Linked DNA regions of Homo sapiens: regions 2, 3, 4 and 5 are each linked to region 1. The links come from fine-mapping of genetic effects on gene expression. A gene starts in region 1. Each other region holds a variant in brackets. All regions are shown on one strand. Distances are from middle to middle.

Region 1 (5,102 bases):
AGGGGAGGGCAGAGGAGCCGGGAGGCAGGCTGGAGTGGGTGGGAGTTACAGGAGGCAGATTGGAAGCTCCAACAGAAAAGCAGCCAGAGTGCCGGACCCAAGCAGATGGCCTCAGGAGAAAAAGGGGGAAGGGGAGGGAGGGTCCGTCAAGGGGCAGCAGGGAGGGGTGGGGGAGAATGCCTTGAGTCTCCTCCCCATCTGCTATCTGCTATGCCCCTGGCACCTACCCCCAGCAGCCCAGCGCCCCTCCCCTGGGGTGGGCCATGCAGAGAAGAGCATCCCTCCACCAGCCCCTCTCCTGAGGACAGTGGGGGGGCCAAACCCCCTGCCCCCATCCCTGCCTTGGCACAGCACCTTCACTTGACCTATTTGACAAATAGGGCTTCTGTGAAACCCACGGTTCTATTGCCAAAAACCAAAGGCCAACCAAAGCTGTCCCATCCTGCCCCTGGCATCATTCTACAGGTGGGGACCGGCGTGCTCAGGGGCTCCTGGCCACACTGTGTCCCAGTGCCCACTCGCTCTCCTCCCTGGCTGGCCCCTCCCACCGCTGGGGGCCACTGTGTGCGTGGCTCTCCCCACCGCAGCCACTGTCCAGCACAAATGCCATTTCTCCCTCCTCCTCCTCCTCCCCTGCCTGCAGTTGCTAAGTTACACCAAAAAACCCCTCTGCTCTGTGTGAACTGTTCCATTTCCACGATTTGCCAGGTGGAAGGGAGCCATCCGGCTGGCAGCTCGAAGATGCCTCCCAGAGAAAAACAAACTCACTGGCTGGCCTTCAGGCCAAGGCACACCTGGGATACCTGCTTGGTTCACAAACCCAGGGGCATGTGCAGGAGGACACAGCTTCTCTACTTCACTAGAGAGCCTGGGGGATCCACACAGCTCATGCCCTTCTCAGGAGCAGGGAGTGTGGGCCTGCTGCACCCGCCTCGCTGGGTCACTACCACCCACAGCCCTAAGGACACACACTGGCTGGAGGGGCAGAGAACCCACCCACGTGTCCCTGGCCATCCAGCCAAGGTCCTCCATGTCCCCCTGCTCCGGATCTCCCCTTCCTGGGCTGGGGTCCTGAGGTTCCAAAGCAAAGTGTCACTGGACATCAGGGTGGAAATGTCCTCAGAGGTCATCAAAACCGTGTCAGTCTACAGATGGGGAAACTGAGTCTCAGAAGCCTGCAGCCTGCCCGTGGTTCACGAATCAAGACCTGTAGCCTTTCGGCTGGAGGCCCCCTAGAGCCGCTTAGAGTCCAGGGCACCGAGGTGGACAGGCTGGGCTGGCAAGACTGCATCCGGAGGGGGCGGGAGAACCCTGGGGGGACAGAGGGAACCAAGGCCTCTGGGAGGCTCCCCTGCACCCAGCCTGACTCCTGTGTTTCAGGATCCTGCGGCCGACGGCCATCGGGGCCCTTCCTGCGCAGGACAGTGGGAGAAGAGTGGCAGTGGTGGGGAGGGTGAACCAGGGAGAAGCTCACTGCTCTGAGCAGGGAGGGAGGGAGCCCCGGCCACCACCAGGTCTCTGCCCCCAGGTGGCTCCCAAGAGGCAGGCAGCGGCCTCTCTGTAAATATCCACCAGGTCCAGCACCCAGAGGCAGCCAGAAATGCAGGGCACAGGAACCTGCCAGCGCGTCCCTCCACACACAGCAGGGGACTCCCGCCCCCACCTCTCACTCACCGACCCTCGGACCAGAACCAGCTGCACCTGCCCCGTTCCTGGGGCCGGCAAGGCCTGGGGCAAAGAGAGCGTGGTCCTTCAAATGACCCTTGCCCAGCAGGGAGAGGGAGACACCTGGCATGGCCCTGGACCTCTCCCCCAAATGCAGAGCTCAAGCCCCAATTCCTCGCCAAACAGCAAGGGCGTGAGATACCACGGCGGGGCCCAGAATGCAGAAGAGCAAATGGAAACTTCCAACTGCGCAGCCCTGAGCTCCTCCGATTCCCCAGCCCCCACCCCCACGCCAGGCCCCGGGCAGCGAACCTGCCCGCAGTGCCCACGCCCGCCCGCCGCGTGCGCTCCTGCCACGCCCGGCCCGGCCCGGCCCGGCCCGCCAGGTGCCCTGAAGGGGCGGAGGGTGCAGGGGGTCCTGGCGCCGTCCAGCCCGGGGCGGAGTTCTCAGCAACTCCGCGCGCCGGGATCCCGGCCGCCCTCCCCGCGCGCGTCCCCCGCCCCGCGCCCGGAGCCCGCGCCCCGGCCCCACGACGGCCGCGCCGGGAGGGACCCCGGGCCCGCGCACGCCGCGCCCTGCCCGCGCCGGCGACCGGAGGGCACGGCCCCAGGCGCGGGCGGGGGCCCCGAGGCACTGAGGGTCCGCGGCCGCTGCCTACCTCGGTCCGGGCCAGCGTCGCTCCCGCGCCGCCCTCGCGCCGCAGTCGGGCCCCGAGCAGCGCGCGGCCGGCGCCGGCGGCGGCTCATGCTCGGCGCCCGGGCCCGCGGCACCCGCCCACCCGCGGCCGCCCCCGCGCTGCGCCAGCTGCGGGCAGAGCAGCTCCCTCCGCAGCCGGCGCCGGGGAGCGCGAGCGAGCGAGCGAACGAGCGAGCGCGGAGCGAGCGCCGAGCGGGCACGGAGCGGGCGCGAGAGCGCGGGGAGCGGGGGAGCGGGCGGGCGCGGGACGCGGAGGGAGGAGGGTGCGGGGCAAAGGTGCAGGGGGAGGTAGGGCGCGGGACGGGGCTCGAGCAGAGGGCACTGGGACAGGGCGGGCGCCGGGAGAGGGCGGCCAGGCTTTCATTTAAAAAGGATAAGGCATCACGCCTGTAATCCCAGCACTTTGGGAGGCCGAGACGGGCGGATCACGAGGTCAGGAGATCGAGACCATCCCGGCTAACACGGTGAAACCCCATCTCTACTAAAAATACAAAAAAAAAAATTAGCCGGGCGTGGTGGCGGGCGCCTGTAGTCCCAGCTACTCGGGAGGCTGAGGGAGGAGAATGGTGTAAACTCGGGAGGTGGAGCTTGCAGTGAGCCGAGATCGCGCCACTGCACTCCAGCCTGGGTAACAGAGTGAGACTCCGTCTCAAAAAAAAAAAAAAAAAAAAAAAAAAAAGGATCAGGCAGCAGACAAGCTAGGAGGCGATGCGGCCACCGCATTTAAAAGGCCCTCTGGGGACTCCCGCAGAGCTGGCAAAATTTTTGTCAGTGGAATCAGACGGTGAAAGCCCTTCTGTGGGCAAGTCCTGGCCCCTTGGGTCACTCCCCTTAACCATCTTAATCGCCCTGTAAGGTCGGTGGTGGATTTGTTCCCATTGGACAGGTTAGTAAACTGATGCACAGGGAGTGCGGTTACCCTGCAGGGTCTCAGAGCCTATAAGTGGCAGAGCAAGGCTCCAAAGCCACCTTGAAAGATTTCAGAACCACTAAAGCAGGACACAGGTCTTCTGGCGTCCACTGGAACTTCCTGTCGCTCTGAAGGGTCACCTTCTCTTGAACGGACACCCTGTGGCCTGACCCCAGGGTGGCCCAGAGTGACTCTTGCAGGCAGTCAGACGAGGGCCAGTGAGAAACAGGTCTGGGGCGACGATGTCCCCAGGTGGAGGGGTCTGTGTGAAAAAATGGGGAGGAGCCCCACAGCACCCCTTGAAGAGGCTGAGGACCTTGCTTACTCACTTAGTCCTTGTGTCTTGAACACCTGTATGCCAGGTGTAAGATGGGGCACTGGGATTCGGCTGTGAATGTCTCTGTCTGGTTGGAGTTTGCATTCTTGTGGGAAGTAGGCAGTGAATAAAAATACACATAAATAGTTCATGTGTCAGATGCTGCAGATCCCACAGAGAGGCCCAGCAGGGAGAGGGAGCCAGCGAAGGGAGGGGGAGGGGAGCTTGTAGGGTGGGGGATTCTTTTTTATTTTTTAAGGGGAGGTGTCACTGTGTGGCCCAGGCTGGAGTGCAGTGGCTATTCACAGGTGCAATCACTATGCTCTACAGCCTGGAACTTCCTGACTCTAGTGAGCCTCCTGCCTCAGCCTCCTGAGTAGCTAGAACTGTAGTTTCTCACCACCACCCTTCCCTGCTGGGTTGGGGATTTTATTTTGGGTGATCAGGGAAATCTTGGCTGAAAGGATCATATCTGAGCTAAGACCTAACTGAGGCAAGCTATGCTGAATCCGAGGAATGAACATTTTCAGCAAAGAGAACAGTACATGCAAAGGCCCTGAGGTGGAGGATGCCTTAGAAGGAGGCCAAGTGGAGATGAGTGAGTGTGGTAGAGAGGAGCCTGCAGGAGCTGCCAGGTGGACCATATCGCGAAGAGCCTGGCCAGCCATCAGCCCTCTGTGGCTTTGACTCAGAGGGAGGTGGAGGGTTTTGCACAAAGTAATATGATCTTACTATTTTTTACAAACAATATTTTATTATGTAAGATTTTAAACGCTTATAATAGTAACGGCTAAAAAGGTATATACAATAAACTCAATGGCCCAACTTCAACAATTATCAATACATGGCCAATTCTGTTTCATCTGTATGCCCACCTACCACTCCCCATATTATTTATTTGTTTACTCATTTTAAGTAAACTTTTATAGCTTTTTTTTTTTTTTGAGACAGGGTCTCATTCTGTCCCCCAGGCTAGAGTGCAGTGGCACAATCATAGCTCATTGTAGCCTCGAACTCCTGGGCTCAAGCAATCCTCCCGCCTCAGCCTCCCAAGGATAATTTTTTGTAAGTATAACATGCATAGACAAAAATCATAAAGTTGTGCTCCATGAATTTTCAATAAGAATACACCCATTCAGTGAGAATATTAATAGCTCTCTGCACCTGGATTTTCACTGTAGAAAGGTTTTTAATGACAGGTTCATTTTCTTTAATATATAGGACCATGTAGATTATTTGCTTCTTCCTATGTAACTTTTGCAAATTGTGTTTTTTATGGATTTTGCCCATTTTCTCTAAATTTTCAGATTTTCTGACATCCTCATATTGTTGTTTATAACATCTTTTATATTATCCCGCAGATGTTTGTAGAATCTGTAGCTATGTCCCACTTGGATTCTGATATTGGGGACCTCTGTGTTTTTCACTCTCTTTTTTTGATCAGTCTTGTTAGGGTTTTGTCAGTTTTATAATTTTTTTTAAAGAAACAACTTTTGACTTTGTTCAGCTTTCTC
Region 2 (5,102 bases), 42 kb before region 1:
AGCAAGTGCTTCCCTGAATTATGTGAGCTGCTCTAGCAAATTAATTGAATCTGAGAAAGGAGTCCCAGGAGTGGTGATTTGCTGGGTGGGTCAGAAGCACAGGCCACAACCTGAGACTTGCAAATGGCATCTGAAGTCGAGGGAGGGGGACAGCCTTGTGGGACCAAGCTCTCAACCTGTGAGATCTGACTTCGCCTCCAATATTGTCCAAATTGAATTACAGGGCACCCAGCTGCTGTCTTAATGTTAGAGAATCTGGTATTAGAATGTTGTGCTAAATGGCTGAGAGTGGAGAGTAAGAAAAACACTTTATTGGTTTTTTTTTTATAACCCTATTAGAGGTAAACTCCCAAGAACACAAAGCTATGCCCAGGAAACACAGTGAGCACCTCTTCATGCTAGATTCACAACCAGAAATTGCCCAGCAAGTGGTAGATGCCCAAGGGATGAAAATATTGCAGTGCATGCTCTCTGGACAGGGGACCAAGATATGTGAAAAACTGTGTCTAGAAACAGAAAGGCACATTCTACTGTCCAGAGTCTCTGCCACATGGTCGTATGTTATACCACCAATGAAACCCAGTAAAGTCCCCAAATAGAAGTGTGCAGGTGAGAGAATGACATAAGCACAATGTACTATAGTTGGATATTAATATATAACTGATAAACAAAATACCCACTTCATAAAAAAAATCCCTAAATCACACCTGTGTTAAAGATTCAAATTCCAATTACAGATGTCAGAAAAATAACCTTTATAGGAAAACTCTGTATCGAATTTGATATGGCCAAAGCTGTACTCACAGAAAAGTTCATAGACTTCAATAATGTATTGAAGTAAACACTAAGCACTTGATTCAAAAAGCTTAAAAAAGAGCTTCTCAACAAAACAGTGAAACAAACTGGAAGAAGAAACTACTAAAAAGCAAATTAGATGACTTAATCAAAGAATAGAGTAGAACTCCTTATAAACTTCAAGAGCTGATTCTTTGAAAACACAGATTTCAAGGATAACCCTCTTGCAATTCTAATCAACAAAAGGAAAGAAGAAAGGGAGGGAGGGCCAGGCACCCTGGATCATGCCTGTAATCCCAGCACTTTGGGGGGCTCTAGTGAGAACCTGTCTCTATTTCTTTAAAAAAATTATAAAAATTTATTTTAAAAAAGAAAGGGAGGGAGAGAAGAAGGAAGAAAGGAAGGACATGAAAAATACATTGGGCATGAAAAAAGGGAATCTAACTCCAGATATGTAGAAGAAAGTTTAAAACAAACAACTACCTAAATCTGTGGTAAATGATCTGCAAGAACTTTTAATGGTTACTTATATTATCTAGAAAATATAAGTAACCAAAAATAGAGTAAAACTGTTTAGAACCCAAAAAGACCAATAACCATAGTACAAATTAAGTTGAGAGCCAACTAAGCCTCTGGAAAAAATAAAAGAAAGCCCTGGCTGAAATAGTTTCTAAAATGAATTATTTCAAGCCTTTGAGGATAAGATAATTTTATATGATATATAAACTATTTCAACTACACAATTCATATTGAAAAGCCTTCCTATTCATTTTATAAAGCTAAAATAGCATGATTTATAAATGTGACAAATATGTCTCCTAGTAGAAAAGTATGCATAAATTCTTACCTCTGAAAATAGTGAAAAATACCCTCAGCAACATAGCAACACATCAGTAAAATGAACTCAGCAGCATTTTTAAGCACAATAGAGCCTGACCCAGTGGGCTTTATTCCAGGAACAAGAGGATGATTTAGCTCAGAAGAGTTAATAAGTCAACACATTAATAGGTCCAAGGAGGAAAGGCATTTGATGATTTTGCTAGATATAGGAAAGCCTTTGATGAAACTGAATATCCATTCCTGGTGTGCACTCTTGGCAATTAATGTAGGATTCCAGCACACTGTCCTTGATGACGAATACCTATTGGAAATATGGGCCAGTTTCAGACTTAGTAAAACATGAAAAGCCTCCTCATTAAAATGAAGATCAAGCCAAAGACAACTGCTATTATTTAATGTTACTTTGCACCTTTTAGAAAACATAATAAGATAAGAAAACTAAAGATACATTAGAAATAAAGAAGTTGGCTGTTCCTTATGTGTAAGTAATATAATTAATTTCTTGGATTTTCCAGGAAGCCAAACTAAAAATCTGTTCAAACTAGTAAGGTATCAATAATCAATTACCTAACATAAACTTTTAAAAAATCAATAGCTTACTTATCTACCTCCCCTGGGCATATGTGTCTGCCCATAAGTCTGTGTGGAGCTGTTACAGAGATGCTCACACCAGTGGCAGTAGGGGAGGTGTGTCTGTGTGTCTCTGTATGTGTCTGTGTGTCTCTGCATATGTCTGTGTGTCTGTGTTTCTCTGTGTTAGTGTGTCTCTGTTTCTGCGTGTGTGTGCCTGCATGTGTCTATGTGTGTCTGTGTCTCTGTATGTGTCTGTGTGTGTGTCTTTGTGTCTCTGTGTCTGTGTGTGTCTCTGTGTCTGTGTGTGTGCATGTGCCTGCATGTGTCTGTGTGTGTGTGCATGTCTGTGTGTGGGGGTCTGTGGGGGGGGGGTCTCTGTGTCTGTGTGTTTCTGTGTGTCTGTGTCTTTGTGTGTGTCTGTGTGTCTGTGTCTCTGTGTCTGTGTCTCTGCATGTGTCTGTGTGTCTCTCTACGTCTGTGTCTCTGCATGTGTCTGTGTCTGTGTGTGTGCCTGCATGTGTCTCTGTGTCTGTGTCTCTGTATGTGTCTGTGTTTGTGTGTCTCTGTGTCTGTGTGCCTGCGTGTCTCTGTGTCTGTGTCTCTGCATGTCTCTGTGTGTCTGTGTGTCTCTGTGTCTGTGTGCACCTATGTGTGTCTCTGTGTGTGGGTGTCTGTGTATG[G/GGT]GTGTGTGTGTGTGTGTGTGTGTGTGTCCACGGATCTCTCAGCTCTCTAAGCTCCACTACCATCCCCCAGGAACACGATGTCCACAGTGGGCCTGCTCTGCCAACCAGCTCAGCTACCCTGAAGCCACTTTTCCTGGTCACCCACCCAAAACACCACACCACTGCCCCCTCAGGCTGGGCACTCTAGGAACATGCCAGTCCCTGTTTTAAGGACATCTGTTGTATGTGGCCCCAGGGAGGTCCCCAGAGAAGTCATACTCAGGTTGGGGCCAGAGTTGAAGGCTGAGCCTCCTCACCCACGGGGAGGGGGAGAGAGAGGAGGGCGGCGCTCTGACGCATACTTACCGGCCCAAGGCTGGGCAGGGGTGGCTGGCGGCAGTCACAGTGACATTTGGGAAATGCCAGGGGCTGGGTCCCAGCCCGGAAGGCGGGTGTGGGCGGTGACAGGGGTGGGGGCTGGGTTATTCCCCGAGGCTGAGACCACAAGACACCAGCTTTGCCAACAAAACTCCACTTGGCCAGTGGTGCCAGGGGCCGCAGGGCCAGGGCCCAGCCAGCAGCAGGGGCCAGAAGAAGAAACAGAGGGCCAGGTTCAGTGGCTAATGCCTGTAATCCCAGCACTTTGGGAAGCCAAAGCGGGCAGATCATCTGAGGTCAGGAGTTCGAAACCAGCCTGACCAACATAGAGAAACCCCGTCTCTACTAAAAATACAAAATTAGCCAGGCATGGTGGCACATGCCTGTAATCCCAGCTACTCAGGAGGCTGAGGCAGGAGAATTGCTTGAACCCCAGAGGTGGAGGTTGCAGTGAGATCATGCCATTGCACTCCAGTCTGGGCAACAGGAGCAAAACTCTGTCTCAAAAAAAGAAAAGAAAAGAAAAAAAGAAACAGAGAAGCTGAGGGGATCTTGGCTGCCATCCTCCTCCGAGATCCACGCCATCCATGGGCTCCCACCTGACTGTCCCCGGGTTCCCTCAGGAGCCCCCACGCCTCGTGTCCCATCTGCCTCTGAACTCCCATTGTCCTGGAACCCACAGGGACCCAGGCAGCCCAGAACCCACACAGTGGAGCCCTCATGACCCAGGAACCAGCTCTGACCCCTGACCTCCTGGCTGACCTCAGGCAAGACACAGCCCCTCTGGACCTCAATTTCCCCAGATGTAAAACAAGAAGTAGAGAGCCTGTACAGGCCACTTCCCGCCCTCATCTTTGTTCCTTCCTTTCTTCCTTCCTCCTTCCTTCCAGAACTTGTTCAGTCAAGTCAGCATCCCTTGAGGCCTTTGTGGCCTATGCCACACACTCAGAACGGAACAGCCCATGGACCTTAGTGTCTGTGGGAAGACAGACACAACTCCATGGCATGGCATGATCTCTTCAGGATTGGGGGTCTGTGCCGGGTGTCGTGGAGGCACGGAGGTGGGGAACTAACTCTGTAGGGAGTAGTCAGGGAGGGCTTCATGAAGGAGGTGATTCTGAGATCAGCTTCCAAGGATAACCAGGGGTTTTCCAGTGGGTTAAGGGGGAAAAGGGAGGTTGACATGACAGTTTGGTCTCCTTCCTCTGGTCACTCACCAGCAGTTCCCTGGAGGGCGAGGTCCAAGAGCCCAAAGGTGTGGGAGATGCAGGCAGCTTCCCCTGCACTAAGTCAATCCTCATGCATCCCACCAATGCCAGTGTGAGACTCTCTCCCCCAGGCAGCCCTTCCTGACTGCCTGCCCCCCCGACAGATGGCACTGCTGCAGCCCATGTGTCTGTGAGTATGTGACCCTGGGTTGTGCTGTCCCCAGTGCCCCCTGCATCCTGGCCAGGCCTGGACCCCCAATGCACAGAGGTGGTGGGCTAACATGAGAGGCCATGGCTCTGCTCTCCTTCCCCTGGCCTGTGCCCCGCTGAGGGCTAGAGTCCTCATCCCACCTCTCCTGGGGAAGCTGAAAGAAGGTGGCTCAAGCTAGCAGGCCCAGCAAGATGGGCTTTGGGCCTGGGAAGGCTGGGGCCCAGGGCTGTACTGTCCTGAGCCAGCAGGTGCAGGTGTGGGTAGGGTGGCCAGGAGGCAGGGCAGCAAGGAGCCTGCAGGGTGGAGCAAGCCAGGCTCTGCATGAGCACATGCAGCCTAGACCTCTCCCTGGACTCTAGACTGCCCACACCACTGCCAGGCAACACCTCTGGGGTGGGAAGTGTTGAACTGTCCCTGCTCCCACCTGCTGTGCCTGCC
Region 3 (5,102 bases), 150 kb before region 1:
GTCACTTTCCATCAGAGGGGCCCCGCGCTAGCGGCACTCCCTGGGCCCACAGGGCTACTCAGAGGTCTCTGGTGTGACACTGCCATGTGTCCTCACCCAGTTCGGGGCTGGGCCCGTGGGGCAGGGAGCTCTAGGAATGGACAGTGCATCCTGGGTACTAGGGTACCCTGGGTACCACAGGGCACCAGGTGTGCTGTGACCTCAGGTGACCCCAGCCCCGCCCTGCATGGCAGGAACATTGTCACCATTTCTCAGATAAAGACCCAGGAGACCAGCCTGGTTTGTTGGTTTTCCAAACCACCATGCTGCTCAGGGGCTTCCCAGCATGCGTGTGTGGGTGTGTGCGAGAGGGATAGGGAACCCAAACACCGGGAGTGCGCAGCAGGCACTGTGGTCGGCACCAGTAGAGTTGGAGGCTGGGCCTGGGACAGGACAGGTGGGAACAGGGAGCAGGCTGTGTGCAGAGCCCAGCGCCAGGCAGGAACCCTTGCATCTGCGCAGGCCTCTGCCTCCATCAGCATCCCCAGCCTGCACTGGGGCAGGACCCAGGAGGCAAAAAGGCTTGGCGTCCTAGCATCAGGGAGGGGTGCCTCCCAGGGCAGTGTCGCCTGCCTCAGGCACCTCGAGAAGGAGGCACCCACACGAGCAGCAGGAGGCAGAGAGCAAGTGGTTCAAGAGAAAGCTGAGGCTTCAAGGTCTGCGCTCTCCACAGAGCTGCAGCAGTGCTGCCTGAGGCAGGGCTGTGTCCACCCCCTTACTCATTGGGTGGCCGGGCCTGGGGACCCTGCGGCCTCCCACCCCTGGCTCCTGGAAGACCCAAGCTGCCTGACCCGCACGCCCAGGGCCCCCTCTCTCCGCCCCCAGGCCCGCTCCTCCTCATCGTGGAGTACGCCAAATACGGCTCCCTGCGGGGCTTCCTCCGCGAGAGCCGCAAAGTGGGGCCTGGCTACCTGGGCAGTGGAGGCAGCCGCAACTCCAGCTCCCTGGACCACCCGGATGAGCGGGCCCTCACCATGGGCGACCTCATCTCATTTGCCTGGCAGATCTCACAGGGGATGCAGTATCTGGCCGAGATGAAGGTGCGTGCATATGGCTCTGCACCCAGCCAGCCCCGGCCAGGCCACACCCTGACCCACCACGCCCCTGCCACCCACACCCTGGCCTGCCACTCCCCCACCATGCCACACTCTAGCCCACCATGCCCCTGCCATGGCATGCCATGCTATGGCTCACCACGCCCCTGCCATGTCACACCCTGACTCCACCACGCCCCTGCCATGCCACACCCCCGGCCCAGGTCTCACCAGGCCGCTACCCGGGCCACACACCACCCCTCTGCTGGTCACACCAGGCTGAGCCAGTGACCGCTGCTGCCTGGCCATGGCCTGACGACTCGTGCTATTTTTCCTCACAGCTCGTTCATCGGGACTTGGCAGCCAGAAACATCCTGGTAGCTGAGGGGCGGAAGATGAAGATTTCGGATTTCGGCTTGTCCCGAGATGTTTATGAAGAGGATTCCTACGTGAAGAGGAGCCAGGTGCCCAGTCCCGGGGATGAGGCGGGGCTCCCAGGGATCCCAGGTGCACCATGGGGCAGGCAGTGCCCTTGGGAAGCCTAGGAAAGATACCGAAGATTAGTGGAGCTCTAAGCTTTTTATAGCCCTCACCCCAAATCTTTCTGACCCTGGGTCCCCAAGGACCCAATTAGAACTCCGCTCAGCCTCTGCCATGTCCTTCTCCTCCAGGGCCTCCAGGGCACCCCTCCCTGGCAGCATACTGACCCGAGGCCCTTGCCGCACTTTTCAGAGGCCACCTCATGCTGCGGAACTAACAGTCCTCTTCTGCAGAATAAAGGTCACCGTTCTGATATGACCTTAGCTCTTTTCTCAAAGAAGGGTGGGATGAAATTAGCAGGATCGTCATTCTTTGCAAAAAGGAATGAACTGCTTTACAAGTGAGGCTTCTCCCGCACAGGGGCCTTGGACACTGGGCTGGGTGAGTTTAGAGGCATAGGAACCCCCTGGACAGGATCCAGAAACGCAGCCCAGCTTTGTCCAAGTCTATGAAACAGGCAGTGGGCACCCTTGGGGACACCTGGTTCCCTACCATGGTCCTAGTCCCGGGACAACTGCCTTGGCCCTCTTAGTTTTTCTGCCCATGTCAGCCCCTCTCCTGCAGCCTCCCAGTGGCAGCCCAGGCAGGGCAAGTTCAAGGGGCTGCTCAAAGGCCATGCCGCCCAGACGTTCAGAGCAGACCCTGCTCAAA[AAAG/A]AAGAAGAAGAAAAAAAAAAACCACAAAAGGCGACTTCCTATGATTCAGCTTTGCTCTGAGGGGTCTGGAGAAGCCATTTGTGTTGCCAGGGGTTGTGAGCTGTTCCGTTTCTTCTGGGGTTTCCCTTGTGACAGCAGATCTCAGAACTGCTGTGGGGGGAAGTGGTAGGGGCTGGCCCCTGCCCTGTGGAGGGTGTGGACAGAGCCTTCCTGTTGATGCACTGGTCCTCCAGGGAGAGAAGCTGAAGGCATTCTTATACAAGACGTGCAGGCTACACTGTCACACACTGCTGCCAAGACAGCCACACTGCACTAAGGACATAAATCCCTCATGTGTTTAAGTAAAAGAAGTGACAGTAAGATTGTGTTCCAACCCAAGGCACACATTTTAAAAATGGACTTGCACCTTCAGGCTTGTCTGTGGAGAAGCTGTTTCTCAAGTCACCCTGGAAAGGATTTGTTAGGTCAGACCCCAGCACTGATGAGGGATGTAGGGGGCTGGGGGCACTCATTCAGAGATGCTAAAAGCACCCTGCAATACAATAAGAGAGAAAAAACAGCCTCCCCCAAGGCACACAGACAAATCCCTTCCCTCAAGGCTCCTTCAGTGTGGTAGCTGCTGGCAAAGTGCCCAACATGGAAATGCTAGATGTTGGTTTCCCAAACACATTGGCCCTCAGAACCCCAGGGGAGATCTTGCAGGGGGAGTTCCAGGCCCATGCATAGGGAAGCACTGCTCTGCACTACCAGCAGGCCTGTGGCATGTGACAAGCTGGCCCTGTGTGCCTGTGGGTGGGCAGCTGACTCCCGCCAGCATCTCAGCAATCCACAGGAGGTTCAGGCTGGAGCTCCAGCCCCTTCAAAGATGTGTGTGGCCAGTTCTGTGCCCAGGAGTGTCTACAGCACTCCTCTGGTTACTGAAAGCTCAGGGATAGGGCCTGGCCTTCTCCTTTACCCCTCCTTCCTAGAGAGTTAGAGTAACTTCAATGTCTTTATTCCATCTTCTCTTTAGGGTCGGATTCCAGTTAAATGGATGGCAATTGAATCCCTTTTTGATCATATCTACACCACGCAAAGTGATGTGTAAGTGTGGGTGTTGCTCTCTTGGGGTGGAGGTTACAGAAACACCCTTATACATGTAGTGGGGCCACGACGCCCGTCTGTGCAGCTTGGCCAGGGAATTGCACTGGCCCTGAGCACCTGTCTGCAGTGCTAGCCCTCTGCAATGACCCCCTCACTGAGGGGCCTTCATGATGTGTTCGTGAGGCAAATGGCTGGGCCAGGCCGGGCTGCAGTTCTGAAAGCTCCGGTAGAGCATGAGAGCCGAGCAGGTGGCCAGTAACCCAGCCTCCCCCACCCTTGCTAGTCCCATGCCTCCCTCTGGGTCCCTTGGTGACTCAGGCCCAGCCCAGCAGTTACCCTCCTGTGGTCCTGAGTAGGGCTTTGGGCTCAGGCAGAGCACCCAGTGACTTGCCCCCACCCACAAGTGGAGCTTGGGGACTCCACCTGAAGATGGCCTTGTGTGAGTTTATAGATTGGTGTGCCCCAAACTGCTCAAAGGTGGAAGCCAAAATCTCATTCTTCCAGGTCCAATGACAAGAGCTGATCACTTTTAAAACACAGGATTCTTGCCTCTAAAGTGTTCTACAGTCAGCAGAGGTGTGATGTGCCTCTCTTTTTTTGTGGGGGGAGGGGATAGGGTCTCACTCTGTCACCCAGGTTGGAGTGCAGTGGCGCAATCCTGGCTCACTGCAACCTCCACCTCCTGGGTTCAAGCGATTCCTGTGCCTCAGCCTCCTGAGTAGCTGGGATTACAGGCACGTGCTACTTCGCCTGGCTCATTTTTTTGTATTTTTTGGTAGGGACAGGGTTTCACCATGTTGGTCACACTGGTCTTGAATCCTGACCTCAAATGATCCACCCACCTCAGCCTCCCAAAGTGCTGGGATTACAGGCGAGAGCCACCACGCCTGGCCAACATGTGCATCTTAAATACTGTGGGCTGTGAATAAGCAATTGGACAACAGCTTTCCGATTATATAAGCTGACTGTAGGCTAGTTGGAAAAGGCAGAGAAAAGCATAAAGAAGAGACTGAATGTCATTGGACCACACCGCCCAGTGACCTCTGGCTGCCCTCTGGTGTGCTCCGTGGTGTGCACATGTATGCTTTTTATTGCCCTAAATGGGCTCATGCGATGCTGTTTTGTGATATGATTTTGTTCCCATTGCAAAGCGAGTTTTCCTTCACAGTTAAAATGTTTTTCTATAGCTTTTTTTCCTTCTAAGATTTTATGAAATTTTCCAAGCACATAGAAATGGCAAAAGAACTATACAAGGCACTCTGAGTCTGGTGGCCTGCATTCTCACCGCTTTAAGTGTGAGAATCTTAAGAATTATTAAGATTAATTCATGATATTAATTAATGTATCATTAATTCATTAATCATGAATTCATCTTAAGCCTCATGTGTCCCTTGTGCGTGTGGCTGCTCTGATGGGAGTGGCTTGGGCAAGGACTTCAGCTTCATGGAGTAGGGGCCAGGCAGGCAGGCAGCCCTTCCCCACCTTCATGCTACATCCATCTGAGCAGCCAGACCCAGGCTGACATCTGTGAGCATCTGTGCTTGAAGCCGACAGGGTCAGCAGGTGCTTGGTGGTGGGGGTGGATATCTGGGCCCCCCGGAGGGCTCTGTGAGGGCCAGGTGGAGCCACTCACTGGTCCTTTCACTCTCTGCAGATGGTCTTTTGGTGTCCTGCTGTGGGAGATCGTGACCCTAGGGGGAAACCCCTATCCTGGGATTCCTCCTGAGCGGCTCTTCAACCTTCTGAAGACCG
Region 4 (5,102 bases), 91 kb before region 1:
TAGGAAATTAGCAAAGGAAAGGAATGGGAGAGCAGAGATTGGGATTCAACTGGAGCCATAGTAGCCATGTGTTGTTTATCAGACATCCAAGGGGAGGTGCCAAATTGCTAGTTGGCTACAGGGATCTGGCATTCTGTGAGAGGCCAAGGCTTGGGTATATAGGTTATGTGTGGATAACTGCATCTCCCACATGCTTAGGAGGCCAGATAAAACAGTGCAAGAAAATATTAACAATAAGGATTATGGACAATTTGAGTTTCCTTCTACTTTCCTTTGTGAAAATGTGTTGCTTTAAAAATCAAACCAATGATTCCTTTTTCCAAGTCTGATAATATTTGAAGAATTTTTAGAGAAACTAAGTTACAAAGTTATAGTACTTATATAATCAGAATTGGCATGGTGTAGAGATGTCAAAGTGGGTGTTTTGCTTTTTAATACTTTGTATCAGGGTTATATTTTAACAAAGAGATAAGAATATTAGAGACAGGAGTGGTGGCTCACACGTGTAATCCGAGCACTTTGGGATGCCGAGGTGGGTGGATCACCAGAGGTCAAGAGTTCGATACCAGCCTGGCCAACATGGTGAAACCCTGTCTCTACTATAAATACCAAAATTAGCCAGGTGTGGTGGCGCACACCTGTAATCCCAGCTGTTCAGCGGACTGAGGCACGGAAATCGCTTGAACCTGGGAGCTGGAGGTTGCAGTGAGCCAAGATTGTGCCACTGCCGTCCAGTCTGGGCAACACAGTGAGACTCTGTCTCAAAATAATAATAATAATAGAGTCTAGTCTTCATTTTGCCACTAAAATTATGTCTCTCTATATATTTATTTATTCAACACGTATTTATTGAAAGCTTGTCATGTGCCTGGCATTGTTCTAGGTGCTAGGAATATAGCAGTGAACAGAATCCACAAGTCCTCCCCTCAGGGAGCTTTACATTCTAGAAGGGGAAGAAGTTCTCCCCCTCAGCTCAAAAAAAAAAAAATTGAAAAGAAAAATGCCAAACTCATCCATCAGCTCCAATCTGAGCTGAGCCCTCAGGGCTGCCTGGTTCATTATGTGTTTTCCTGTTGATTCTCCTATTCTGTACAGCAGCAATTTCAGACTGTGCCCACTCTTCTCAAAATTTGTCACCTCTGCAGACCTTGATATTCCTGCTATCTGCAGGAATTTCTGTGTAGGTGCCTTACAGATCACTCAGATTCATTATGGCCAGAACCAACTCCATGTTGTTCCTCTCTGGGCTGGCCCTTCCCCTGGGCTTCATCTTAGGGATAGCACCATTACATACCCACTGTTCAGGACGGAAGCCTGCTGTCATCTTGGTTGATCCTTCTCCTTCACTCCCCACTCCTGCCCATTCAATCACTTGCTGACTTCTGTGAAGTCTCTGACCTAAATCTTTTCCACATTCCACATCCATACACTCTTTTGCTTTTGGTACATACCACAGTAGCACACACTAGACTAGCAGCTTCCCATCCCTAGTTATAGCTGTTGCCTCTTTTCTTTGTAGCATGTATCACCACCTAAAATGTATATTTATTTATTTACTATTTTCCCACCCAAACAAAGGCGCTTTGATGGCAGGGACTTTGTCACCTCTGTTTATTGCTAAGCCTCAGTTACTAGAACCATATCCAAAAGATTAAACACTTGTTGAAAGTATGAATAAAATAAAAGGTTTATCAGGCTTCAACTTGTAAGCAGAAGTGATTCCAAGGACTCAGTGTCATCAATGCCCTGGTTTTATATTTCTTTCTCTACTTAGACTTAAGTGGTGACAGCCTCATATTAAAGCTGGTTTCTCGCATGGTAGAAAAGGACTTTGGCAGTTCCAAGCTTCATAGCTGCATCGTGCACTAGAGGTCAACAAATGTTTTCTGTAGAGAGCCAGATAAGAAATGTTTTAATCTTTATAGGCCATACAGTTCTGCTGCAACTACTCAACTCTGCCACTGCACTGTGAAAGCACCCATAGACAATTTGTAAACAGATCAACACAACTACGTTCCACTAAAATTATTTACTAAAGCAGGCAGCAGGCCAGATTTAGCCAGAGGCCATCGTTTGCTGACCCTGCCCTACGACCAAATGTCCTTTCTAGTGAGTCTCTTAGAAGAACGAAGGAGCTTTGTTTTCCAAAGTTCCCAACAACCACCCTGGTTTACCTACTTGGCCTGATTTTTTTTTAAATACCTATTAGTGAGCCAGTAAGTAAGTGAGCCACTATGGTAAGTGGGGTGAGACTGTCTCACTAGTATAGAGACTCATGGCCCACTCCGAATCTACTGGTGACAGCAGCTTCCCTGAATTCATGGGCTGCCCAGGGCCAGGTAATTACCAGAACAAAACTGTACCAATCAGGAAGGGGGTTGGGGGAATGGATACTGGGTAGGCACCAGATAAAGTCTACTGTGTAAGGTTGATCCTGTGTGTTACAATTTGTTTATGCAACTGTTGTCCTAGAATGTAAGCCCCTTGAAGTCAGGCACCACAATGATAATTAGTAACCTCAGCTTGCACCTTGTACAGGCTTTGAGTTCTATTTTTATTTGTTTTGTAAGGATTTAATAACATAAGTGCATGTGATCCTTAATCAGTCACATAAATGACAGGAAAAAAGTATACATTAGAAAATAATTTGTTTCATCGTTGATTAAAACTTCTGCTTCTTATGGAATTAAATTGTTTTCT[GT/G]TTTTTTTTTTTTAACTAAGGTTCACAAAAAGGATTCTGGCTTTTGGCGAGATTTTGGCTTTGGAATGACTTGTCAGTATCGTTCAGATTTCCTGACCATTGGTAAGTATACTTTACATTTAAGGATAGGACTTTATTTACTCCAGACTTAATGGTATTTTGCTAAAAGGTCTCAGATTTGAGTGTTTTCCTACTAAAGTATGAGTGTCTAAGGTTAGCTAAAAAGAGAAACTGGATATACAAAAGGCAAAATAAGTTTATAATTAATGTTTTGAATAGGAAAAAAATGGTCATAAAAATAAAGTATAATATTTACTTGTTCCTTTAAAATCAAAACACCTGTTTTTAAAAATATCTGTTTAACTTGTTACCCATAGTTGCAGGTGTTTAGAGTAGTCTTACAAAAGCTTTCTCTATAACTTTACTGTTGTGCCCATGGGTTGTTACAGCTGGGAGTAATCTTGGTTATCTAGACCAAGGACTTTCACATTTTTTTGAGATGAAACCTCCTTTACTTGTCTAGTGAACTGTTACACAAAATCCCAGTATTTAATACAAATGAAAGAAGACCTGCTCTTTCTAGCGCGTCTTGGAATCACACCTTAGTCATGCATTCCCCTAAGCCTAAAGATGGCCCATGAATAATTTGTTCTAACTATCCTGCATGCTCTGTTGTCCAGGCTGAAGAGCAGTGGCACAATCTTGGCTCACTGCAGCCTCTGCCTCCCAGGCTCAAGCGATCCTCCTACCTCAATCCCCAAGTAGCTGTGACCACAGGCGTGCACCACCACACCCAGTTAATTTTTTTGTTTGTTTTGTAGAGGCGGAGCTTCATTATATTGCCTAGGCTGGTCTTGAACTCCTGGGTTCAAGCAATCTGCCCACCTTGGCCTCCCAAAGTGCTGGGATTGCAGGCGTGAGCCACCATGCCCAGCCCCTAGCTTCAGTCTTACCCAGCAAAATATAAAGTGTCAAAGAATAGTTTAATAAAGCAGGCTGAAACCTGATTCCATGTCTTCTGATTCATTTAGGGCTAGCTACCTTTCTACAGCATAGAAGTCATAGAATATATTTTATATACATTCTAGGTCCATATCACATTCGTTTTTATAACCAGCCTTTTGTTTTGGAAATCCCCCCACCTTGTCTCCTTATCATTGTAACACTTGAATAATGGAAAATCAGGAAATAACAATAAAAGGGGCGTTAAATTAAACTGATGCTCTTTTCCTTGATTTCTTGCTTAGTTAAGCAAGCAGCATTTCACTATTCCTCAAAAATAGATTTGTGTACATTTTTTCAGTATCTTGAATGCTTTGAGTTCCTTATCTCTTTTTTATGACAATTTTATTGAGATATAGTTTACATATCATAAAATTTATTAATTTAAAGTGTACGGTTAACCAGGTCATGTAGCTATCACCACCATCAAATTTAGAGCATTTCACCCCAAAAAGAAATCCCATACCCATTAACAATCACTCCTCACATCCTACCAACCCTCTTTCCCCCCAAACTTAGGCATCTACTGGTCTACTTCCTATAGATTTGCCTCTTCTGGGAATTTAATAGAAAGCAAATTGTACAATATGTGGCCTTTTATGACTGGCTTCTTTCACTCACATAATGTTTTCAAAGTTCATCCATGTTGTGACATGTTAGGTACTTCATTCCTTTTTATAGCCAAAAAATGTTCTATTGTGTGGTTATACCACATTTTGTTTCTCCATTTGTCAGTTTATATGCATTTGAGTTGTTTCTACTTTTTGGCTATTATAAATACTGCTGCTGTGAACATTTGTGTTTAACTTTTTGGGTGGACATAGATTTTCAATTCTCTTGGACATATGCCCAGGACTCTGGCTGGGTCATATGGTAATCCTGTGTTTGACCTTTTGAGAAATTGCCACACCGTTTTCCAAAGTGGCTGCATCATTTTACATTCCCACCAGCAGTGTTTAGGAGTTCCAGTTTCCCCACATCCTCATTAATACATGTTATTATCTTTTTGTTTCTAGTATCACCCATGATAGTGGATGTGGTATTGATTGTGACTCTGATTATAATTTTTCTTATGATTAATGTTGTTGAGCATCTCTTGATGTGTTTATTGGCCATTTGTATATCTTTAGTGAAATGTCTGTTCAGATCCTTTGCCCATTTTAATTGGGTTATGGAGTTTCTTGGGCTTCTTGAATATGTACATTAATGTTTTTCATCAAATTTGGGAAGTTTCAGCCATTATAGTCATCTCTCAGTACCTGCATGGGATTGGATCCAGGATACCATGTGGAACCAAAATCCATGGTCGATCAAGTCCCTTATGTAAATATACATATTTTCATATTACCTGTGCATATCTGCCCATATACTTTAAACCATCTCTAGATTGCTTATAATA
Region 5 (5,102 bases), 27 kb before region 1:
GGCCCAGGCCCCGGAGCTGATCCCTGACCCCACTGTTGTGCCCCTAACTCCCACTCTCCCCCTCCTCCCCTCCCCTCCCCCCCACCTCCATTTCCCCTCAGCCTCTGCCCTCTCCAGACCACAGACACAGTCCTCCTGACCCCGGCTCCTCCTGAGCTGCCTCCCAACCTCTCTTTTCTTCTTACCTACATTTCTAGAAAGAGCAGCTGCATCTGCTATTTTGCAGCCAATTCTGCCTCCTCCCTCCAGTCCCTGCTGTGCTCATCAGAGGCACCAGGCTAACGCACGGCGTGGGTTCCAACCAAGCCCAGGCCTGAACGCACTCATGCCAGGATGCCTAGCTGGCTCCGCTCTCCCCAAACTCAGCTGCTACTCCTCAGGGATCCCACGACACCCAGCCCCATAGAAGTCCCAGGGACCATCCCAGCATGGCCCCAGCACATAGACCACAGAGCTTCTCTGCCTGAATGTCCCAGGACCGCCATGTGATGTCTCCTCTCCCACAGGGAATAGAGCCCTGTCCTGCAGACACTCAGGCACAGGCAAACAGAGACCCAGCCATTGTACCTGTGGGCGGGGATCTGGGCTCAGCACAGCCCACCTGCCCATCAGGGGAGTGGGCCACACAGGCCAAGGCGGCCAGGCCTGACGCAGGTGTGCCTGAGACCCGCCTTCAGGAGGATTAGCCATCATAGATTGAGACCCGCCTTTGGGGGGCGGAGGGAGGGGGGGTGCTGCAGATTGAGACCTGCCTTCAGGAGGGTTTGCCATCACAGAGTAACACCTGCCCCTCAGGAGGGTTAGCCATGTCGACTTAAAGGGGTCTTCAGGGGAGTTAGCCGTGGCTAGTTTATGTGTGCCTACAGGAGGGTTAGCCGCCGCAGATTGAGACCTGCCTTCGGGGGTGTTGTATCGCAGATTGAGACCTGTCTTCAGGAGGGTTAGCCATCGCAGAGTCAGACCTGCCTTCAGCAGGGTTAGCCATCGCAGATTGTCTGGTTTCCTACCCTTGAGCTGCTCAGTGTACTTCACCGAACTGCAGTACTTTAGATAGCTCTACTACTACCGTTTTTGACAGTTTACTTATATTTCATTTAAGTTTAGTGGGGGAAAGCCTGGGTTCCCCAGCCTCCTTGTTCACTGCCCCAGCCCCATGTCCACATACACTCCTGCAACTCTGCAAAGACACCAGGGTGCTGTGAGGGTCCCGTGGGTTTCCCCAGGTCCTCTTTTGGCAGGTCCCTATAACATGTTGCAGGGCAGGGGAGAGGCTGTCTGTGATGGGCAGGGCCCCTGACTGCCATTCGGGCAAGTGGGGATACTGAGGGACCCTGAAAGATATCAGGGTCAGGCTGGTAGGGCATGTGGGCAGCAATGCATCTCAGGGAGTCCTGCCCCCTCTTCCATGGGAAGGGCCCACAGCTGCCATCCCCATGAGCCAGAGAGGATGACACTCTAGGCTGGTGGAAAGGGACCTGATATCAAATGGAAATGAGGCAACCCACGAATACACAAGTCTGCACGTGCTTCTGTGCATGTGTCTGTTCCTAGAGCAGACACAAATGTTCCAGAAGTTTCTTTCTTAGTCATTCACAGAATCACAGGCTCTCGAAGAAGGGGTATTATTCATTCTAATCAGTGGTGCCTGGAATGATGCCCTGTAGTTTCTTTACTTGCCCCAGACACCTGCAGCTCCCTGGAGAGAGCCCCTCAGCTCCTGGCAACTCCATACGTTCTGTGGCAGCTGCAGGGTATTCCACTGGGTAGGTGGGCTGCCACACATGTAAGAGGTCCTCTAGCAAAAGACACCAAGGTGCTTTACAGTCTTTGGCAACGAAAAACACTCCTGCAATGGGCATTATTGATGAAAAGTTTTTATTCAAATGTGTGACCACATATAAAAGATGAACTCCTAATACTTGATGTGCTGGGTCAAAGGTTATGATCATTGTAAGTTTAAAGAGACATCCCAGAAGTGCTTTCAATAGAGTATAGCCAGGTAGTGAAAATGGTGGAGTAAGGACCTCCAAAAACCCTCTCTTCCATAAACGCAACAAGAAAACCAGCAAAAAACAAAAAGGTCAGAATCCACATTTTTAGAACTTCCAAAATTAACTAAA[C/A]GCTTGCAGAAATCTTAGGAGGATTTATTCAAAAAACATAACTGAATCTCAGTAAGAATTGCAAATTTTATAGCACTTGAACTTGCCCTAGTCCCATCCCTGACTCTCTATCCCAAGTGCCTTGAAAAGTAGGACCCCACATTCATCATGAAAACCACTGGCGTAGCAGCCCCTGGAGGGAAAACAGCAATGGAACTCTTTCAAAGCTTCATTCTCAGAAAACTGTCATTATTTGACCTGTCCAGTAGTTCCCATGGAGACCCCACTTACAAGGATGTCTGTATTTGACCTGACTCAGAGGTCTCAAGTACAAAAATCATATTCCCCAAGGTTCATTGTCAAAAACAATTACTGGTATTTAATTTCACAAATGCCTGAAGCAGTAGATAACAGTGAAGCAAGCAATAGACTAACCAGAAAGCTTAAAAGGAAAGTTTCAGTAATGACATGATCATAGGGGTTTTGAAAAACTGCAGTGCATTCCTGAGAATCTAGAAGGTCAAGTGCATGCTCAGGGCTGTGCACATGCTCAGAAAAGTACTTGGGAAACCCTAAGCACTCACTTCTGGCTGACTTTGAGTCTCTGTGCAAGCAGGAAGAGAAGACTAAGGCAGAGTTATCAGCTGCTTAGCTGAGAGCTGAAAGCATACCCAAAGACACAGAGCCCCTTAGCGAAGACTGAGAACTTTATTGACTCCAGGCACTTATGAAAATTTCTTTCCAATCATTATTTGACCGCTAAGATAACTGAGCAGAGATTTCAGTGCCACACACAAAAGAATACAGACTTTGCAGAAGTAATCCAGAAATGTCACAAAACAAACAACCATTACTACAATAAACAGCAGCAACAACAAACCCCAAAGAGTGGGGAGAATCTGATTTCCAGAATTGACTTACTAAACAAAAACTTTCAATCAGCTACTTTAAGTATATTTTTTAAAGACTGAAGGAATTGATGTTTAAAGAACTAAAGGAAAGTATGGAAGCAATATATCAAACAGAGAATATCAATAAAGGAATACAAATTATAAAAAAGAACCAAGCAGAAATTCTGGTGTTGAAAACTAAGTAAATGAAATGAAACATAGCAAGAGGGGCTCAACAACAGGTTTGAACAGAGAGAAGAAAGAATCAGTGACTTGAAAAAACGTCCATTGAGATTATCCAGTCTGAGGCACAGAAAGAAAAAAGAAAGGAACAAATAAATAGAGCCACAGACACCATAATGGACACTATCATATGTATAAGAAGAGTCTCAGAAAAAGAGGAGAGTGAGAAATAAGGCAGAAAAAAAATATTAGAAGCAATAATGGCTAAAATTTTCTAAGTTAGATGAAAATATTCATCTCCATATCCTAAAAGTTCAACAAACTCCAGGTAGATTTCTTATCAGGAACCATGAAGGGCAGGAAGCAGTTGAGCTGACACGTTCAAAATACTGAAAGAAAAGAGGTGTCAACCATGAATTCTTTATGCAGCAAAATTGTCATTCAAATATGAAAGGGAAATTACCTGACAAATAAAATAGAGAACTCGTCAGAAGAAGACCTGCCTTATAAGAACTACTAAAGAGAGTCCTTCAGGCTGAAATAGTAGGACAATAAGCAGCAACTTGAAATCATGTGAAAAAATAAAGAGGACCATTAAAGGTAACTTTACTGGTTTTATATTTATTGCTATATATTAGTAAATATAAAAGATAGTATAAACACATTTTATGCACTTAACTCTATTTTTCTCCTATTTGAATTAAAAGACAACTGGTCTATGACCATACTACCCTGAATGTGCCTGAATTAAAAGACAACTGCATGAAACAATAATTATAAGTATAGATTGATGAGCACACAAGGTATAAAAATGTAAATTTTATGGCAGTAACAGCACAAAGGAGAGGAGAGGCAACAGAACTACAGAGGAGCAAAGTTTTTGAATACTGTTGCAATTGAGTTTGTATTAATCTGAACATTGACATGTACATATAACATATACATAGTTATTTGTTAAGATATTAATTATAACCCTACAGGCAACAGGTAAGAAAATAACTCAAAAATATACAATAAAGGAAAAGACAGAAATTAAAATGGTACACTAGATAATATCTAAATATCTATTTAACACAAAAGAAGAAAATAATGAAGGAATAAAGGAACAAAAATGGCATAAGACATAAAAAACAAATAGCAAATCCTACCTTATCAGTATTTACATTAAATGTAAATGAATTAAACACTCCAGTTAAGAGTCAGAGATTATCAGAGTTAAAAAAAAAAACATGATCCAACTACATGGCTTTCTAAAATAGACCCACTTTAGAGAGAAGAACACAAATAAGTTGAAAGTGAAAATATGGCCGGATGCAGAGGCTCACGCCTGTAATCCCAGCACTTTGGGAGGCTAAGGTGGGTGGATCACGAGGTCAGGAGATTGAGACCATGCTGGCTAACACAGTGAAACCCCATCTCTACTAAAAATACAAAAAAATTAGCCAGGCATGGTGGTGGGCACCTGTAGTCCCAGCTACTCAGGAGGCTGAGGCAGGAGAATGGCGTGAACCCAGGAGGTGGAGCTTGCAGTGAGCCAAGACTGCGCCACTGCACTCCAGCCTAGACGACAGAACGAGACTCCATCTCAAAAAAATAAATAAATAAGAAAGTGAAAATATGAAAAAAGACATTCCAAGCAAAAAGTAATCAAAAGAGAGCCAGAATGGCTATATTAATATTAGAGAAAATAGACTTTAGGACAAAAATTGTTACTAGAGACAAAGAAGGATATTTTATAATGATTAAAGGGCTAATCAACAAGATATAACAATTACAAACAAATATATACCTAACAACAGAGTCCCAAAATTCAAGAAGCAAAAACTGATAGAATTGAAGGAAGAAATAAGACAATTCAACAAAAATAGTTGGGGAATTCAATAGCCCCACTTTCAATAATGAACAAAAACTCTAGACAGTAGGTCAGTTA

Direction of the effects. Positions count from the first base shown, and alleles are read on the strand shown. Sizes are in standard deviations (SD) of each study's normalised expression. Not every link is listed here.
For the expression in unexposed skin of the gene that starts at base 2,545 in region 1, allele AAAG in region 3 goes with a lower level than allele A (moderate effect, 0.45 SD a copy in GTEx).

The links. PIP is the estimated chance that this variant, and not a neighbour inherited with it, causes the effect.
Region 2: its variant is the best candidate, but not a certain one, in a credible set for the expression of RASGEF1A in monocytes after R848 (Quach 2016, PIP 0.57).
Region 3: its variant is the best candidate, but not a certain one, in a credible set for the expression of RASGEF1A in unexposed skin (GTEx, PIP 0.79).
Region 4: its variant is the best candidate, but not a certain one, in a credible set for the expression of RASGEF1A in whole blood (INTERVAL, PIP 0.54).
Region 5: its variant is the best candidate, but not a certain one, in a credible set for the expression of RASGEF1A in whole blood (INTERVAL, PIP 0.76).

Annotation. Positions count from the first base shown.
Region 1 is chr10:43,264,521-43,269,622 of GRCh38, forward strand. RASGEF1A (RasGEF domain family member 1A) reads right to left here and starts at 2,545. Exons shown (of 13, transcript NM_145313.4): 1 at 2,325-2,545. RefSeq lists an enhancer at 1,175-2,050.
Region 2 is chr10:43,222,688-43,227,789 of GRCh38, forward strand. All of the region lies in intron 1 of RASGEF1A (RasGEF domain family member 1A), which reads right to left. Among named protein-coding and RNA genes, the nearest start is that of RASGEF1A, 42 kb to the right of the region's middle. The variant G/GGT (reference allele first, on the strand shown) is at 2,889.
Region 3 is chr10:43,118,667-43,123,768 of GRCh38, forward strand. It overlaps RET (ret proto-oncogene), which reads left to right. Exons shown (of 20, transcript NM_020975.6): 14 at 865-1,079; 15 at 1,415-1,537; 16 at 3,280-3,350; 17 at 5,005-5,102. Among named protein-coding and RNA genes, the nearest start is that of CSGALNACT2-DT, 17 kb to the right of the region's middle. RefSeq lists enhancers at 2,030-2,289, 2,300-2,359, 2,470-2,589, 3,340-3,389. The variant AAAG/A (reference allele first, on the strand shown) is at 2,265.
Region 4 is chr10:43,173,230-43,178,331 of GRCh38, forward strand. CSGALNACT2 (chondroitin sulfate N-acetylgalactosaminyltransferase 2) reads left to right here. Exons shown (of 8, transcript NM_018590.5): 7 at 2,722-2,803. Among named protein-coding and RNA genes, the nearest start is that of CSGALNACT2, 37 kb to the left of the region's middle. The variant GT/G (reference allele first, on the strand shown) is at 2,701.
Region 5 is chr10:43,237,379-43,242,480 of GRCh38, forward strand. The region is part of intron 1 of RASGEF1A (RasGEF domain family member 1A); the gene reads right to left. Among named protein-coding and RNA genes, the nearest start is that of RASGEF1A, 27 kb to the right of the region's middle. The variant C/A (reference allele first, on the strand shown) is at 2,121.